Linked DNA regions of Homo sapiens: region 2 is linked to region 1. The links come from fine-mapping of genetic effects on gene expression. A gene starts in region 1. The other region holds a variant in brackets. All regions are shown on one strand. Distances are between the middles of the regions.

Evidence for each region. PIP is the estimated chance that this variant, and not a neighbour inherited with it, causes the effect.
Region 2: its variant is fine-mapped to the expression of UICLM in whole blood (TOPMed, PIP above 0.99). The same link has a PIP of 0.9 or more in blood mononuclear cells.

What each region holds. Positions count from the first base shown.
Region 1 is chr2:240,963,714-240,972,042 of GRCh38, reverse strand. It overlaps UICLM (up-regulated in colorectal cancer liver metastasis), which reads left to right and starts at 4,592. Exons shown (of 9, transcript NR_033841.1): 1 at 4,592-4,716; 2 at 7,867-8,054; 3 at 8,297-8,329. CROCC2 (ciliary rootlet coiled-coil, rootletin family member 2) reads right to left here. Exons shown (of 32, transcript NM_001351305.2): 21 at 8,270-8,329; 22 at 7,418-7,577; 23 at 6,525-6,662; 24 at 6,050-6,407; 25 at 5,634-5,818; 26 at 4,578-4,698; 27 at 3,781-3,914.
Region 2 is chr2:240,936,142-240,944,470 of GRCh38, reverse strand. The region is part of intron 14 of CROCC2 (ciliary rootlet coiled-coil, rootletin family member 2); the gene reads right to left. Among named protein-coding and RNA genes, the nearest start is that of UICLM, 27 kb to the left of the region's middle. The variant C/T (reference allele first, on the strand shown) is at 5,006.

The DNA.
Region 1 (8,329 bases):
AGAAGTGAGCTACTGACACACACCAGAAGATGGTAACTAGTGTTCTCAAGGTGAGGACAGGGCAGGGGTCTTGAGGTGGACAATCCAAAATGAAAACTCAGGCCGAACGAGGCCACCGTGGGGACAGGAGCAGCAGACGAGATGCGGCAGATCCTGAGATTAGCTGAGTAGGAGTAAGACCTGAAATTCTCCTGGGACCTTGGGGAAAACCGAGATGACAAGGAGAAATTCAAGATTGAAGCCAGGAGGACAGGTCCAGGGGATCAGTATTGGGATGCTGAGAATTCCAGGACAAAAGAACAGAGAAGAGGGAGAAGGAGAAGAGATGTTTTTTTTACAGTGGAAGGAACCTCTGTAAACAGAAGGTAGATTTGATTCTGCAAGTAGGGAGGGTTTGCCGGGGTAGGTAAAAATAATGAAAGGGGCCGACACGCCCACATTTTGGTGACATTTTTGAATTTCAAAAACAAGGAGGCCTCTGGCTGCCACTCTGGAAAGAGCACTGACAAGAAAAACACAAAGAACCCAGGGAATCCGCACATTTCTTGAACCCATCTGAACTCAAGGTCAGAGGCAAACAAGGAGCCTGGAATCGAATGAAAGCCAGGCCCCTCCAGGAGAGATGCCATGAGCGGCCCCACCCATCAAACCAGCGGCATGGAGTTCACCAAAGCTGGTAACATGTTGCTCGGACCCACGTGGCAGGCAGAGCCCTCAGAGGGCCCTGTGAGCTCTGGCCCTGACGTTATCCTGTGATTACGTTGGATTCATGGCCAGGGGACTTTGTGGATGTGAAGAGTTGACTCTGAGTTAAGCAAAGGGTGACCACCCAGGTGGGTCTCACCCACTCACGCACACCCTCGGGTGTCGGCAGAAGGGAGCCATGAGGTGTGAGGCACGTGGAGATGGGGGGCGTGGGGTGCAGGTGCTGCTGCCACACTGTGGCACAGCCAAGGAAGCCCCTGGCTAGGAGTGGGGAGCCCTTGGCCGACCGCACAGAAATGAGGCTCAGCCCGACAACGCAAAGAGCTGGACTCGCCACGCTGGGATGAGCCCGGATGCCCCCAGAAGCACCTGGATGAACCCAGAGGAGGACTCTTCCCCGTGGCCTCGGGTGGCCCAGCCTACCCCATGACTGTGAGACCCAGAGGGGAGACGCCAGTCACACCATGCCAGGCTTCTCACCTATGGGACTGGGGGCTCAAAAGTGGGGTTAAGTCATCAGTAATTTGTTGCAAAAAGTAGTGCACCAGGTGTGGGCTGCTGTGGGTAGAGAGCCCTGGGGTCCACAGACACCAAGAGAAGTTCAACCTACAGGCAGGAGAGCCCAGAGCCCCCCTGGGGAGCAGGTTTGGAAGAGGGGATTGTCCAGAGCAGGAAATTCTAAGGAGCAAAAGTCTTAGCTCCTAGGGCGCAGGTGGAAGCAGTGCAGCTGGGAAGGGAAGGGACAAGACCCTCGGCCCCTGGAGGGGGCAGGGCGCTGTCCTGGCCCAGCCATAAGATGCCCTGGATGCAAATGCTAAGGGAAAAGAGGATGAATAAATCATCCCTGCCATGCAAGACAGGACAGGCAGGAAAGACACACGGAAAGGAGAAAGTGTCCTATGAACAACCTAAGGAAAAACAGAGCATGGGTTACCACAAAACTTCTACATGGGACAAATTCCCCCAGAAGAGGCAGAGACTCTAAGGTGAGATTGAAACCAGAGCCAGGCTGATGAAATGAAGGCTGAAACCACAAACACCAAAAAAGCAGAGGCCAAGAGGAAGACAAACAGCAGTCACAGGACATGCAGGCCACTCAGGAAAAGTTAACCGAGAAACTTCAAATTCGAAGAGTCAAGAAATCTAGAAGTCAAATACCCTTGGAAATAAAAGGAGACATTGACAAAAAGAATTGTAGTGGGAAAATTCAACACATCATCCTTAGTTTTGATAAATTCAGGAACTGGATCAAATGTGGCCTATTTGAATAATGCATTTGTAAAGGTTGATTTAAAAGGTGTATTTCAGAACTGGGCACGGTGGCTCACACCTGTAATCCCAGCACTTTGGGAAGCTGAGGCAGGCAGATCATTTAAGGTCAGGAGTTCAAGACCAGTCTGGCCAACATGGTGTGAAACCTGTCTCTACTAAAAATACAAAAAAATTAGGTGTATTGGCGGGTGCCTGTAATCCCGACTACTTGGGAAGCTGAGGCAGGAGAATCACTTGAACCTGGGAGGCGGAGGTTGCTGTGAGCCAAGATGGTGCCACTGCACTCCAGCCTGGGTGACAGAATGAGACTCCATCTCAAAAAATAAAATAAAATAGAAGGTCTCTTTCAAAATGTGTAACCTGTGAGCAGAGCACGTTATTTCTGCATGCATGTGGGAGACATACATGTGACTATACACATAAAATGAAACTTGGCCCAACTCAGCCCGCTCCAGGTCCCCTGACTTCTCAGGTGCCCCCATCTCCTGGGCATCTCACAAGTCCTGACCCCATCCCTGGCCAGGCCGCCTGGGTCTTTCCACAGACGTCTCTAGTCTTACTGCCCCAGCAGCTGTCACCAGAAGGGTCTTTCCAAAACAGAAATTTCCAAACTGCTGGCTAATGAGGACCTTGCTCTCTCTGCAGCCTGGCCTCTGCTCTCTGCCCCCTCCCCTCTCCCCTGCAGAAGCCACCTCCTCAGAGGCTCAGGGCCTACTGGGAACTCAGAGCCTGCCTGCTAGTCTGAGTGCTGACAGCCCTCTGGTGGCCTCTGAGGGCCACCAGGCTCCGGGGCTGAGCCCCGCGTGGAACAGCACAGGCCTGGCCGGCTGCCCTTGGGGCCTTTCTGCCAACCTGCAAGGCCGTCCCTCCTGATGGCTCACCCAGGCCTCCCTCATTGGAGGGACACTTGGAGAGGAGTGGCTCCCCGGTCTCTGTGCCCTGTCTCCTCTGCACTGTGCTGGCCCCCTCTTTCCAGAATGGGTTGAGGGACGCCTGGGGGCAGTTGCCCTGGGGAGCCTCAGCCAGGCACGCTGTTCTCTGGCCCCTGGGGCCTGCAAGGGAGCTCTCTGGAGCGGAACAGTTGTCCCCTGGCCCAGTCCTGACAAGAGGATCTCAGGACACCCCGGGGGCTGCTTGGACCTGTGGGGCTGGGCTGGCTGGGCCTGGGGCTCCCCACCAGCACTGAGGACCAAGGCCTGGGCCAGGCCTCCATCCACCACTGCCTGGCCGTTCCATTTCCAGGCCCAGGCTCCTCACCTGAAAACCTCAGACCCAGCGGGCACCTCCCCAGCACAAAGCCTGGCATGTAGGGACACTGACTTCAGCCCTTCCTGAGAGGCCCCTTCTGTGTCTGAGCCACATGGAATGAAAAGTGGTCTTGGAGCAGGACAGTGTGACCCTATAAAGAGCCCCAAGGCTGGGCCAGGGCCGCCCCATGCCTGCCGCTGTGGCCTCAGCAAGAAGAAAGGGCCTAGACTTGGGGCTCTGCCCCCCACTCGCTGTGCCCCCAGGGCCAAGTCCTCAGTTTCCCCAACCTGTAAAACAAGGGCTAGAACCACCGTAAGGACAGCTCTGCTAAGGACGACCCCAGTCCCGATGACCCCAAAGCCGCCTGCCACAGCCCAGCCTGCACCTCTGCCCCAGGGCCCCACCGGGCTGGCTCCAGCCCCGAACACCCACAGAAGCCCTTGCAGACCCCTCTCTCCCACCTCCCGGCCCTGTGGCCTCCCTGCAGGGTGTGAGGGTGACCGAGAGGCCTTGTTCTTGTGCCCCACCTGGGACCCACCCTGCCGCCTGCCCCACCTGCAGCCGCCGCTTCTCCTGGCCTGCCGCACGCACGCTCGCCAGGTGCTCCAACTCCAGCCTGCGGAGCGCCTCCTTCTGCAGGGCACGTGCTGCCCGGGCGCTGCTCAGCGCGCCCTCCACCCGGCGCTGGCCTGTGGGGCAAGCAGGGTGGCTTGAGGGGCCCCCATGCCCCTCCCAGGTCACAGGCAGGCAATGCAGGGCTCTGTGGACTTGAGTGACTGGCTCCCACGTGGAGGTGGGGGTCCATCCTTGCAGCTCAAGGGTCCTGGGGCTGCCCCAGGGTCCCGGCTTCCCACCCATCCTTCCCTCCTGCCTCTTTCCTTTAATTGAGGGGCAATAAGCAGAGAAACTCGTGAGTGTGAGGCAGTGGGGGGCAGAAGGAAGGGGCCTCTCTGAGGGGGTGACGAGGGGCAGGGCCTGCCCGGGGAGAGCCGTGTGGCTGTCTGGGGGAGAGGGTGCCAGGCAGAGGGCACAGCCAGGGCAAAGGCCCCCAGTGGGAACTGCAGGAGGCCAGGGTGGGGCAGGGGGGCAGAGGATGCTGGGGGCCGGATCGGGAGGGCCCTGATGGGCCTGTGGACGTCACTCCTCTGTGCTGGGGAAGTCGCTGCTGAGAACTCCGATGCCAAGCGCTGACCCAGCCTCGCCAGGCCTGGTGGTTTGGGTGTTGCCCCCAGGCTCCCTTCCCACCGAGCTGCCCCAGGGACTGAAAGCTTATAGCCGGCAGCAGTGGGGACATGGTGGTGCCACTCTCACAGCCACTCCCAGGGTGGGCGGGGCAGGGCAAGGGAGGTCACCTTCTTCCGCCTCAGCCAGGGCTTTCTGCAGCTGCCCCACGCGGCTCTGGGCCCGGGCACACCTGCACTCTGCCTCGCTCAGCCGGCTGCTCAGGGTCGCCATCTGGATGCGGGAGTCATCCTGGGCAGAAGGACTGAGGTCAGCGGGGGCAGTCCAATGGGCGGGTGGAGGGCCAAGGTGTCTGCTAGAGGGTCGGGGCCAGCTGGGGCCGCTCACGGTCTGGCCTGCAGGTGTGCAGGGCAGGGCAGTGGGTGGTGTGGGCCGTGGGCTCGGGGAAGGTGCGGGGAAGGTGATCACACTGGGAAGCTGCGCTGACCTGCAGGCCTGGGGAGGTGGAGGCGCCCAGTGAGACTCGGCCTAAAGGGTCCAGGTTTCAAGCACAGGTGTGGTGTGGGAGAGCTGGCAGGTGGCGGCCCACAGCCTGTGGTCAGGGGGACCGGTAGGGGCTGCCCCTGGCGGGACTTGGGGCTGAGTGCAGACGGGACCCTGCCCCCTGGGGCTGGCAGCGGTGGGAGGGTGGGCCCGAAGGGAAGGAGTGTGCACAGAGGACCCTGGCCAGGGCTCAGGGCCTGCCTCTGTCTTTCCCACAGTCCTGCCCACTGGAGTCATCCAGCGAGGTGGGAGGGGGCCGCTCACGGGTGGTTCTGTGGGAGCCCTGAAGCCAGGAGCAGCCACTGGGGAGCTTGGCCCCACCGGAGGGGTCTTTGGGAGCATTGAGGGGAGCTTGCTGGCTCTGTCCTGCAGTTGCCCAGCCCCGGCAGCTCTTCAGGGGTGGCATGAGTTGCAGAATGCCCTACCCTGGGCCCTGGTGGGTGTCACAGCAGGGCCTGGCTCCAGGGGCTTTTCAGCCTGGTATAAGGAAGGGGGCGGCCTCCAGCCACCCAAGGCACTTGGGCTTGGGGGCCATGGTGGTGCTGGTGTTTATCACAACAAACAGGACGGCCTGGACACTGACCCTCAGACCCAGGGACGCGCGGATGGATGGACAGCAGGTGTTCTTCCCAGAGACCCCCGGGGGGTGCCGCCGTGGGCGGGAGGACCCCAGCCCCCATTACCCGCTCCCGCTGGGCTTCCCGGAGCTTCTGCACAAAGTCCCGCAGGATGTCCTGCACGGTGGCCACATCCATGAGCTCTGAGCTGCGGCCTCCGGGTGTGGGCGAGGGCCATCGGAGGGGCGAGTGGGGCCTGGCTGGGGGGCTGGTACCCTGTTGCCCAGGGAGAGCCTGGGAGCTGTCGGAGCCTGCGGGAGGTGACAGCGGAGGGGTCGTGGACAGGAACACAGTGACAGATACACGCCCTTCCCCTTTCCTCTCTGCTGCCCCAGCCATGGGAGGTTGGGGAGACGGCCACAGGTTCCTACAATTGCCTGTCCGAGTCCCTCACTGTGTGAGTTGTGAGGCCTGAAAGAGAGGTGCCAGGCCAGGGACTGAGCTGGGAGAGGGGCCCGCCTGCCTCCACTGAGGACTCTGACCTTTGGTGGGGGAACCAGGCTGCTCCGGGGAGGCCCACGGGCTCTGTCTCTGGAGCCCCAGGCCACGGCGGAGCGTGGAGCACAGCCGGCCCAGCTGGGCCTCCGCATCCTGCCTTGCACCCTCAGCCTGGGCCAGCTCCTGCTCCAGGCTGTGGATTCGGTGACAGGCCTGGTCCAGGCGAGCCTGGAGAGCATCAGCCACACCACTGGCTTCCTGCAGCTTCCTGGTGACACTGTGCAGCTCTGCTCGGAGGGTCTGCTCAGCCCCCCGGCTCTCACGGAGGTGCTCCTGGAGCCGCTGTCCATGGGCCTCCCCTGCGGCCTCCACCTCTGCCAACTTCCTCTGCAATCCCAGGACCTGTAGGAGGGATGTTGGGGTGCGCCCGTGGGAGACAGTGAGGAAGTGGGGTGGGCCTCCTCCCTCTGCTCCCCGACGCCCAGCTCCTTCCCTTCTGACCACAGGCAGCCCTCCCACCTCCTTCCGGGCACCCTCGTGCTTGGCCTCTGCCTTGGCTGCCTGCCTCCGCAGCTCCAGCACCTCCTGCGAGCACTGCGCCTGCAGCTCATGGGCCTCTCCACTCCTCCTCTGGTTCTCGGCCTTCAGTGTCCTCACCTGGGAGCGTGGGGCCGCACGGACAGGGTCACTGGTCTCTGTGCTGGAACCCAGGCAGCCTCCCTGCCTCCTGCCTCCGCTCACACGTCCCTTGAGGGCAGCTGGCCACACTTAGGGAGGCTTGGGCTAAGGTGCCCCAAAGGACCTTGCCCTGGGAGTTGTCACCCTCAGCCACTCTGTAGACACCTACCTGGGACCTCCTCGGAACCTCCTTGGAGGACCTGGGACAAGGAGGAGGCTCAGGTGGGGCGGGGTGGGCACTGATTAGGGAGTGTGGGCAGTGGCTGGGGTGCATTGGACCCAACTGCCCCGAGGCCGCCATTACAGGAGGGAGCCAGGCCTTGGGGGGACCCGGCTTGCCAGCACCCTGCCCTGCAGAGGCCAGGCCTCCCCTCTAGCCTGCCTGAGTTCCCGAGCGCCACCGGAAGGTGTTGCATGTAGGATACTTCCGTGTGCTGCTGTGCATGCCGGAAGGTGTTGCATGTAGGATACTTCCGTGTGCTGCTGGGCATGGTTCCCTTCCTCCTCGCTAAAGCATTCCTGGTTTTGCCCTCTCCAGTCTTGTCATCTGTGCCCCATGGGGACAGACCCAACCAGGGACCCTGTGAGCCTGAGCAGGGCGTGGCCCAAAGTCTGGGGACAGAGTGGTTCAAAGGCGGCAGCAAGGCCAGGGCTGGGGGCTCCCCTGGGAGGAGCCGGGACCCACCAGGCGGGAGGGTGCCTGGTTGGATGTTGACCCCTCCCTGCCGCCCTACCTGTCTGTGGAGTTCCCGGAGCTCCTGACGGGCGTCCCCCCCTGCCTGCTCCAGCTCCCACAGGTGGGCCCGCAGTGCACTGGCCTCCTGCTGCAACGCCGCCTGGGCCTCCTCCAGGATGAGCAGCTTCTGCTCCTTCTCCTCCTTGGACCGCTTAAAACTGACGAGGGTGCCACAGGCTGGGGCCCCCGCACCTCCTGGTGGGGCCAGCACAGCTGCCCAGCAGGTCTCTGCCTCCCCTAGTGAGGCACTGGCCCCAGTCTTGACTCTGCACAGTGTCCTCAAACTCAGCCTCTGCAGGGTTCCCTGTCACCTTACAGACATATGTCCACCCAGGTCCCGGTGCCGGCCGCATGGCCCCTGTCCACTATCCACCTCTTCAGCCCCTCCTCACCTCATCCCTCCCTGTCTCCCCCTCTCTGTCACACTCCCGGACGCTCAACATCCAGCCTAGCCTGGTACCTCTGCCACCTGCTGTGAGGGCTGTGCCATCCTGCCCAGCTGCCCCACAGGGGCCTTTCTAGAGCCCCAGCCAGGCCGTTGGCCTCCCTCTGCTCCCCAGCTCTGCACCACCTCCTGGAGGCCACCTGTGACCTATCTTGCCTGCTGGATGGGAACTCCCTGTGGGCAGGGACAGGTGTGTCCATGTCCTCAGCCATCCCTCGCACTGGCCAGCATTGCAGACCTCTTGGACTGGGCAGCGGGAGGCCTGCTTGGCATGTCTACCCCACCATCAGTGGGGCCCAAGTCAACAGGACGCCCCTGCCTAGCCCCCTTGCCCCATCCTCCCTACGGCCTGGGTGGGCAGCAGGCTGCAGGGCACCCCCAGCTGCTCCTGGGTGGCCGCCATACCTGGCCTTCTCCTGTTCGGCCCTGCAGATGGTGGCCCGCAGCTCGCTGTTGAAAAGCAAC
Region 2 (8,329 bases), 28 kb after region 1:
TTATAGACATATAGGACAAGCTAAAAATGCCCATCATATGTGTAATTACAGCCTCAAAAGGAGATGAGAGGGCACATTTGAACAGATACAGGCCAAGAATGTTCCAAATCTAATAAAATACATCTAGCCACAGACTTAAAATGAGCTGTAACCCCCAAAAGGATAAATTAAAAGAAAATGTCACATATATACAACTTAGTAAAGTTTCTGAATACCAAAGATAAAGAAAAATGTTTTTTAAAAAACAAAGGGAAAAAGACACATAGGCGTGAAATGAACAAGACTGACATTTGCTTTCTATGCAACAATGAAGGCCAGAAGATGATGGAATGACTTCATTAAATTTCTGAAAGAAAATAATGGCTATTTTAGTATTCTATACCCAGCGAAAACATTCTTCAAAAGTAAAAACCAGGACTTTCTGCTTCTGATAATGGTGAGGTGGGTTGTTGAAAACCAACCCTCCCATCTAAAGCAACTAGAAAAGCAATACAACGTACAATCCAATAATCTGTTTAAAAGCATTAGAGAGATACTAACGCAGTCAGGTCCCAGGTGTTCAGGCTACAGAGAGAAATATATTAAAGTGAGTCTGAAATTCTATGAATACAACAGATTTCCCCTTTGAGGTATCTGCCAAGTCCTAAGTGACAGGGGGTGTAGAGCCTCAGTATCCAAGAATAAAGCTTTAGGCCGGGCTTGGTGGCTAATGCCTGTAATCCCAGCACTTAGGGAGGCCGAGGTGGGCAGATCACCTGAGCTCGGGAGTTCGAGACCAACCTGGCCAACATGGCGAAACCCCATCTCTACTAAAAATACAAAAATTAGCCGGGCATATGCCTGTAATCCCAGCTACTCAGGAGGCTGAGGCAGGAGAATTGCTTGAACCCAGGAGGCGGAGGTTGCAGTGAGCCGAGATCACCCCATTGCACTCCATCCTGGGCGACAGAGCAAGACTCTGCTTAAAAATTAAAAAAAAAAAAAAAAAGCTTTAGCTAAAAGACTGGGAACATGGCCTAAGATTTCAGCAGGCTTATGAGATTGAAGAGATATAACTTAGAGTTCAGATATACCAAAGCAGCCGGGGAACGAAAAGAAGAGCGGATATCAGAGAGCAAGGAAATGCCTTGAGGTAAGCCTGAGATTGTATATTGCGATTTTAAAAAATGGTACTGCTGGCTGAGCGCAAAATCCCAGCACTTTGGGAGGCTGAGGCAGGTGGATCACTTGAACCCAGGAGTTTGAGACCAGCCTGGGCAACATGGCAAAACCCCATTTCTACAAAAAACACAAAAATTAGCTGGGCGTGGTCATGTGTGCCTGTAGTCCCAGCTACTCGGGAGGCTGATGTGGGAGGATCACTTGAGCCCAGAAGGTCGAGGCTGCAGTGAACCATGGTCATGCCACTGCACTCCAGCCTGGGCAACAAAGACCCTGTCTCAGAAAATAAAATAAATGGTACTGCTTTGAAAAAGTATGTATTTTTTATAATTCAGAAGTAGTAAAGGACCAGGAGACTACGAATCTGAACAAAAAAATAGCAGCTGACAGTCTGAGAAGTCAGATAGTACTTTTGAAAGTCCTATCTGAAATAAAGATAATAAAAAAAAGACAATAAATAAAAAGAAAATAAAACCTGGAGTTTAGGGCTAACTAAAGAGTAGGAACCCTGGTAAACACCTGAGATTTCCCATTAGGAACATAGGAGAGTTATATTATACCCTGGGATAAGCCAGAAATAGACGACTCCTCACAAAAGACTGAAGTACAGTTACAAAGCAGCTAAATCCTGGACTGGATAAAGGCAATTTATCCCTATTCTGATTTCCCAAAGTCAAAAGCAAATTCCCTCTAGAAGAAGCTTATATCATTCAAAGCCTTAAATTATCTCTATGAATTATATCTACAAAAACACAAAGTCTGTCATTCAATCAAAAATTATTAAGCATAATAAAAAAACAAACAATATTAAGCATACTAGGAGACAAGGCCAAACTACTGAAAATAAATAAATAAAAGACAATAGAAATAGCTCATTAGGGGATCCAGATGTTAGAGTTATCAGACAAAGACCCAAAAAGTATTGTAATTAATATGTTTAAAAACATACTCAAGAAGGAAAAGAATGTTACCAAATAACTGAAATGTTTGTGAAAAGATGATTGAGTGTGTGTGTGTGAATGGTTAAAAATAATCATTTAAAAGTAAAAAGTATTAATAAAGTAATGTACGGTTTATAACAACACACACAGAAATAAAATATAGAACAACAAGAGCAAAAAGTATGGAAGAGATGTCTTAGTAAATTTGTGCTGCTATAACAAAGTACCTGAGACTGGGTAATTTATAAAGAACAGAAATTTATTAATTTATCTTCTCACAGTTCTAGAGACTGGGAAGTCCAAAATCAAGGTGCTGGCAGGTTCAGCTGTCTATCAAGGACTACTCTCTGCTTCCAAGGCTGTGCCTTGATGCTGCATTTTCCGGATGAGAAGAATGCTGCACCTTCACATGGTGGAAGGCATAAGGGAAAGTGAGACACAAATGATGCTGCAAGCCCCTTTCATAAAGGCTTTAATCTCGCTGATGAGGGTGGAACCCTTATGGCCTAAATCACCTCTTAAAGGTCCCATCTCTTAATACTATCACAATTAGTAAGTTTCAACACCTACATTTTGGAGGGGACACATTCGAAACATAGCAAGGGATGAATGGAATGTATTGCTGGAAGGGTCTTACATTGTTTGTGAAGTAATATAATATTTGGATATAGACTGTGCATATCATAATTTTAGGGTAATCACTAAAACTAACAAAAAGAAACACAGTTTCATTCTTCTACATGTGGCTTGACAATTATCCCAGCACCATTTCTTGAATAGAGTGTCCTTTCTTTACTTTATGTTTTTGATTGTTTTGTCGAACATCAGTTGACTGTAAGTATTTGGGTTTATTTCTGGGTTCTCTATTCTGTTTCATTGGTCTATGTGCCTATTTTTATACCAGTACCATGCTGTTTTGGTAACTGTTACCTTATAGTATAGTTTGAAGTTGGGTAATGTGATGCCTCCAGATTTGCTTTTTGCATGTTCTTGCTTTGGCTCTGTGGCTTCTTTTTTGGTTCCATATGAAATTTAGGATTTTTTTCTAGTTCTGTGAAGAATGGTGATGATATTTTGATGGGAATTGCATTGAATTTGTGTATTGATTTTGGCAGTATGGCCATTTCCACAATATTGATTCTACTCGTCCATGAGCATAGGATGTGTTTCCATTTGTTTGTGTCGTCTATGATTTCTTTCAGCAGTGTTTTGTAGTTTTCCTTGTAGAAGTCTTTCACATCCTTGGTTAGGCATATTCCTAAGTATTTTTTTTTGCATCTATTGTGAAAGGGGTTGAATTCTTGATTTGATTCTCAGCTTAGTCCCTGTTGGTGTACAGCAGAGCTACTGATTTGTGTACACTAATTTTGTATCCCGAAACTTTGCTGAATTCATTTACCAGATCTAGGAGGTTTTGGGAGGAGTCTTTAGGTATATGATTATATCATCGGAAAACAGTGAGAGTTTGACTTCCTCTTTACTGATTTGGATGCCTTTTATTTCTTTCTCTTGTCTGATTGCTCCGGCTAAGAATTCCAGTTCTGTGTTGAATAGAAGTGGTAAGAGTGGGCATCCTTGTCTTCTTCCAGTTCTCAGGGTGAATGCTTTCAACTTTTCCCCATTCACTGTAATGTTGGCTATGGGTTTGTCATAGATGGCTTTTATTACCTTAAGGTATGTCCCTTCAATGCCGACTTTCCTGAGGGTTTTAATCATAAAGGGATGCTGGATTTTGTCAAACGCTTTTTCTGCGTCTATTGAGATGATCATGTGATTTTTGTTTTTAATTCTGTTTATGTGGTATATCATATTTATTGACTTATGTATGTTAAACCATCCCTGCATCCCTGGTATGAAACCCACTTGATCATGGTGGCACACACTTTAAATAAGCAGACATAGACAAGTTGAAGGTAAATATATGAAAAGGATATACCACGGAAACACTAAGCATAAGAAAATGGAAGTGGCTATATCAGTATCAAAAAAGTAGATATCAAAAAAGTAGATATCAAAAAAGAGTATTGCTAGAGATAAGAGGAGATGTTTTATAATGATAAAATACCAATTCCTCATGAAGAAATAAAATACTAAATATATATACACCTAATAATAGAAATTCAAAACACATGAAGCAAAAATTGGCTGTGGAAGAAACTAAGGGGAGATCTAGTGGAAGAAACAGACAATTCCATTATCACAGCTAGAGATTGTAATGCCCTTCTGTCACTGACTGATGCAGCAAGTAGACAAAAACAACCAATCAAAGAAATAAATCAACACACAAAAAAACCCCAGTAAGGACTTAGAAGATTTAAACAGCACTACTAAGCAACTTGATTTAATTTATATTTATAGAACAATGCACTCAGCAATAGCATAATACACATTCTTTTGATGTGTTCAAGATAGACAACAGACTGGGACATAATACATTTAAATCCATTCAAATAATACAGAGTATGTCCTCCGATCGTGATGGAATTATGTTAGAAATTGATAACAATTAGACATTTAGAAAACCCTATTTGGAAGTTAGGCCATATATGTCCAAATAATCCACGGGGCAAAGAATAAATCACATGGGGAAAGAGAAAATAGTTTGAATTGACTAATAATAAAAACACAACATGCAAAATTATTAGGATGCAGATGAAGAAACATAAATAAAAACTAATAAGAAATTGTAATAGATTTTATATCTGTTAAAGAAATTGAATTCATTATCAAATGCTTTCTCACAAAGAAAACCCCAGACTCACATTATTTCATTAGTGAATTCTGCCAAACATTTAAGAAATAAGTAATACCAATTTTACACACACACTTTCAGGAAACAGAGGAAGAGAGACTACTTTCCAGTGTATTTTAGGAGCACAACTCTGATTCCAAATCTGATGATT[C/T]CAAGGAAAGAAAATTACAGAAATATTACTCACAAATATAGATGCAAAAATCTTTAACAAAATATTTATAAGTTGAATAAAAAATATATAAAATGGATACTAACTCACGACAAAGTAGGGCTTATTATGTATGCAAGTTTAACATCTAAAAAATTAATCAGTGTAATTCACTACATTAACAACATGAGGAGAACAATGATGTGATCATCTTAATAGTTCCAGAAAAAGAATTTAGCAGAACCCAGTACCCATTTATAATTTTTTAAAAATGTCAGCATACTAGGAATGAAGGGAACTTCCTTACTCTGATAAAGGGCATCTATGAAAAGCCTACAGATAACATCATATTTAATGGTGAAACATCAAATTATTTCCCCATGATTGCCTTGGGTGGAAGTATGGCCACTCTCACCACTTATATTCAACTTTGTTCTGCAGGTCTTAGTGCAATAAGATAAGAAGAAGAAATAAAAGATATTCAGATCAGAAAAAAAGTAAAACTATTGTTACAGATGAATAATTATATAAACATACAACCTTAGTACTTATAAGTGAATTTGTCAAGGTCACATGACTCAAAATAAACATATGAAATTGTATTTCTATAATAATGAACAATAAGAAAATGACATTAAAACCGTAATATAATTCATGATATAAAAATCTAGAATTAACCTAATCAAAGATGTGGAAGAAAACTCTACATTGAAAACTACAAACATGGCTGAGAGAAAGAAAGTAAAGACATGGAGAGATATACCATATTCATGGATGTAATATTCAGTATATTTAAGATGTCCATTTCCTCAAGTTGATCTATAAATTCTAAACAATTTTAATCAAACTCCTAGTAGGCTATTTTGCAGGGGAGGGAAGAAGAAATTGACAAGATGATTCTAAAATGTATATGCATATGCAAAGGATTTAGAACAGCCAAAACGATCTTGAAAAAGAACAAGGTGGATGTGTGTACACTACTCAATTTCAAGACTTACTAAAAAGCTATCATAATCAAGACAGTGTGGTTTTGGTGAAAGAATGAATAGATTGACTTGCACAGATCAACAAATCCCACATATATGATCCGTTTATTTTCAACAAGTTGCCACATTTAATCAAGGACCAAAGGAGAGACTTGAAAAAAATGGTGCTGGAAAAACTGGGTATTAGTATGAAAAATAATGGACCTTAGTTCTTACATCATACCATACACATGTGGTCCTCACACGTTAGTGTGCAGCAGGATCCCAAGGAGGGCTAATTAAAATCCAGATTTCTGGGCCCCGCCCACAGAGTTTCTGATTCAGTAAGTCTTGTGTGAGGCATGAGCATTTGCATTTTTACCAAGTCCCCAGGTGTATCAGTCTGTTCTCACCCTGCTGTAAAGAACTACCTGAGACTGGGTAATTTATGAAGAAAAGAGATTTAACAGACTCACAGTTCACAGGCTTAATAGAAAGCATGACTGGGAGACCTCAGGAAACTTACAATCATGGCGGAAGGTGAAGGGAGAAGCAAGCACCTTCTTCACATGGTGGCAGGAGAGAGGGAGTGAAGGGAGAAGTGCCACACACTTTTAAACCATCAGATCTTGTGTGAACTCACTCAACATCAAGAGAACAGCAAGGGAGAAATCTGGCCCCATGAACAAATCACCTCCCACCAGGCCCCTCCTCCAATTTGACATGAGATTTAAGTGGGGAGACAGATTCAAACCATATCACCTGGTGATGTTTATGCTGCTAGTCTGGGAAGCACACGTGGAGAACCCCTGCTGTCCATAAAAATAAACTTGAAATGGATCATAGATCCAAATGTGAAAGCCAGATGAAAATGTAGGAGGATATCTTCTTGTCCTTGGGGTAGGCAAAAATTTTTCAGACAGAACCTAGAAAATACTAATTGTAAAACTAAAAAAAGAAATAGATAAATTGGAGTTTGCCAAAGTTAAAATTTTATGTCCATCCATAAAAAATATCATTGAGAAAATGTACAGGCAGCCACAACCTTGGGGAAAATAGTCATAGGACATGTATCTGACAAGGTACTTGTATCCATGATATATAAATTCCTGTATATTCATAACCAAAATGCAAAAGCCCAGTTTAAAAAATAGGAAAAAGATTTGAACATTTGATAAAATAAAGCATACGAATATCCAATACATGCATGAAAATGTGTTCAATATCTTCAGTTATGAGGGAAATGCAAATGAAATCCTCAGTGATGTATCACTTCACATATACAGAATAGCTAAAAAAACAAAAAACAAAACCCAAAAAAACAGACAATACCAAATGTCGAGAAGGCAGAGGAGCAACTGGAACTCTTCTACACTGCTGGCTGCAGCAAAGTGATTGAACCACTTTTGGAAAGCTGCCTGCTTTTTCGGAAAGCTGCTTGGTTGTTCCCTATAAAAGTTCAACACACACCTATACAGTGAGTGCACAGTTTTGGTCCTAAGTATTTAGTTAGGAAAAATAAAAATATATGTATGCGACTTGTACAAGAAGGTTTATAGCAGCCTTGTGCATCACAGTCCCATATCAGTCGCCTCCCAGCAGGCCCCTCCTCCAATTTGACATGAGATTTGGGTGGGGACACAAATCTAAACCATATCACCAAGTGTGTGTCACACAATGCAACATAAGTACAGGGCCAAGGCAGTAGAAGGGAGTCACATCACTTACATAATGGACCTAGACATAAGCCACAATGCTCTTTGTAGGCAGGGTTCAGGCAGAGAATTCACATCACCTGGGTGCTGGTCCCAGTGATATGTAAAAGTGCCCTTTGTAGGCAGGGTCAAGGAAGGACCTTGTAGGCAGGACCAGTATTGGAAACATTGTTGCTGGACAATCCAAATGTCCAGCAACAGGTGGATGAGTAAGCAGATGTGGTTTACTCATCCCAAGGAATATAACTATGCAGTTAAAAAGAAAGGGCTTAGTGATACACTGAACAACATGTATGGATCTCCAAGACATGATGCTGAGAGAGAGAAGCTGGACACAAAAGCGTCCACACTGCATGGCTCCATTTATAAGGAATTCGGAAACAGGTGCATCCAGTCCGTGGTGCTGCACATCAGAGCAGAGGTCACCTGGGTGGGAGCCGGGGGCTTTGGGCAATGGCTGAAGGCACGTGGGGGAACCTGCTGGACTGACAAAAATGTTCTGTGTCTTGATCCTGGTGGCGGCTACCTGGCTTTGTACAATTGTCAAAATTCATTGATACTGTACACTGACTTATTAAATGTCAATAGAAAAAGAGGAAAAAGGTGACCCCAGAAAAGGACAAGGCAGAATCTGAAAACGGAAGGAG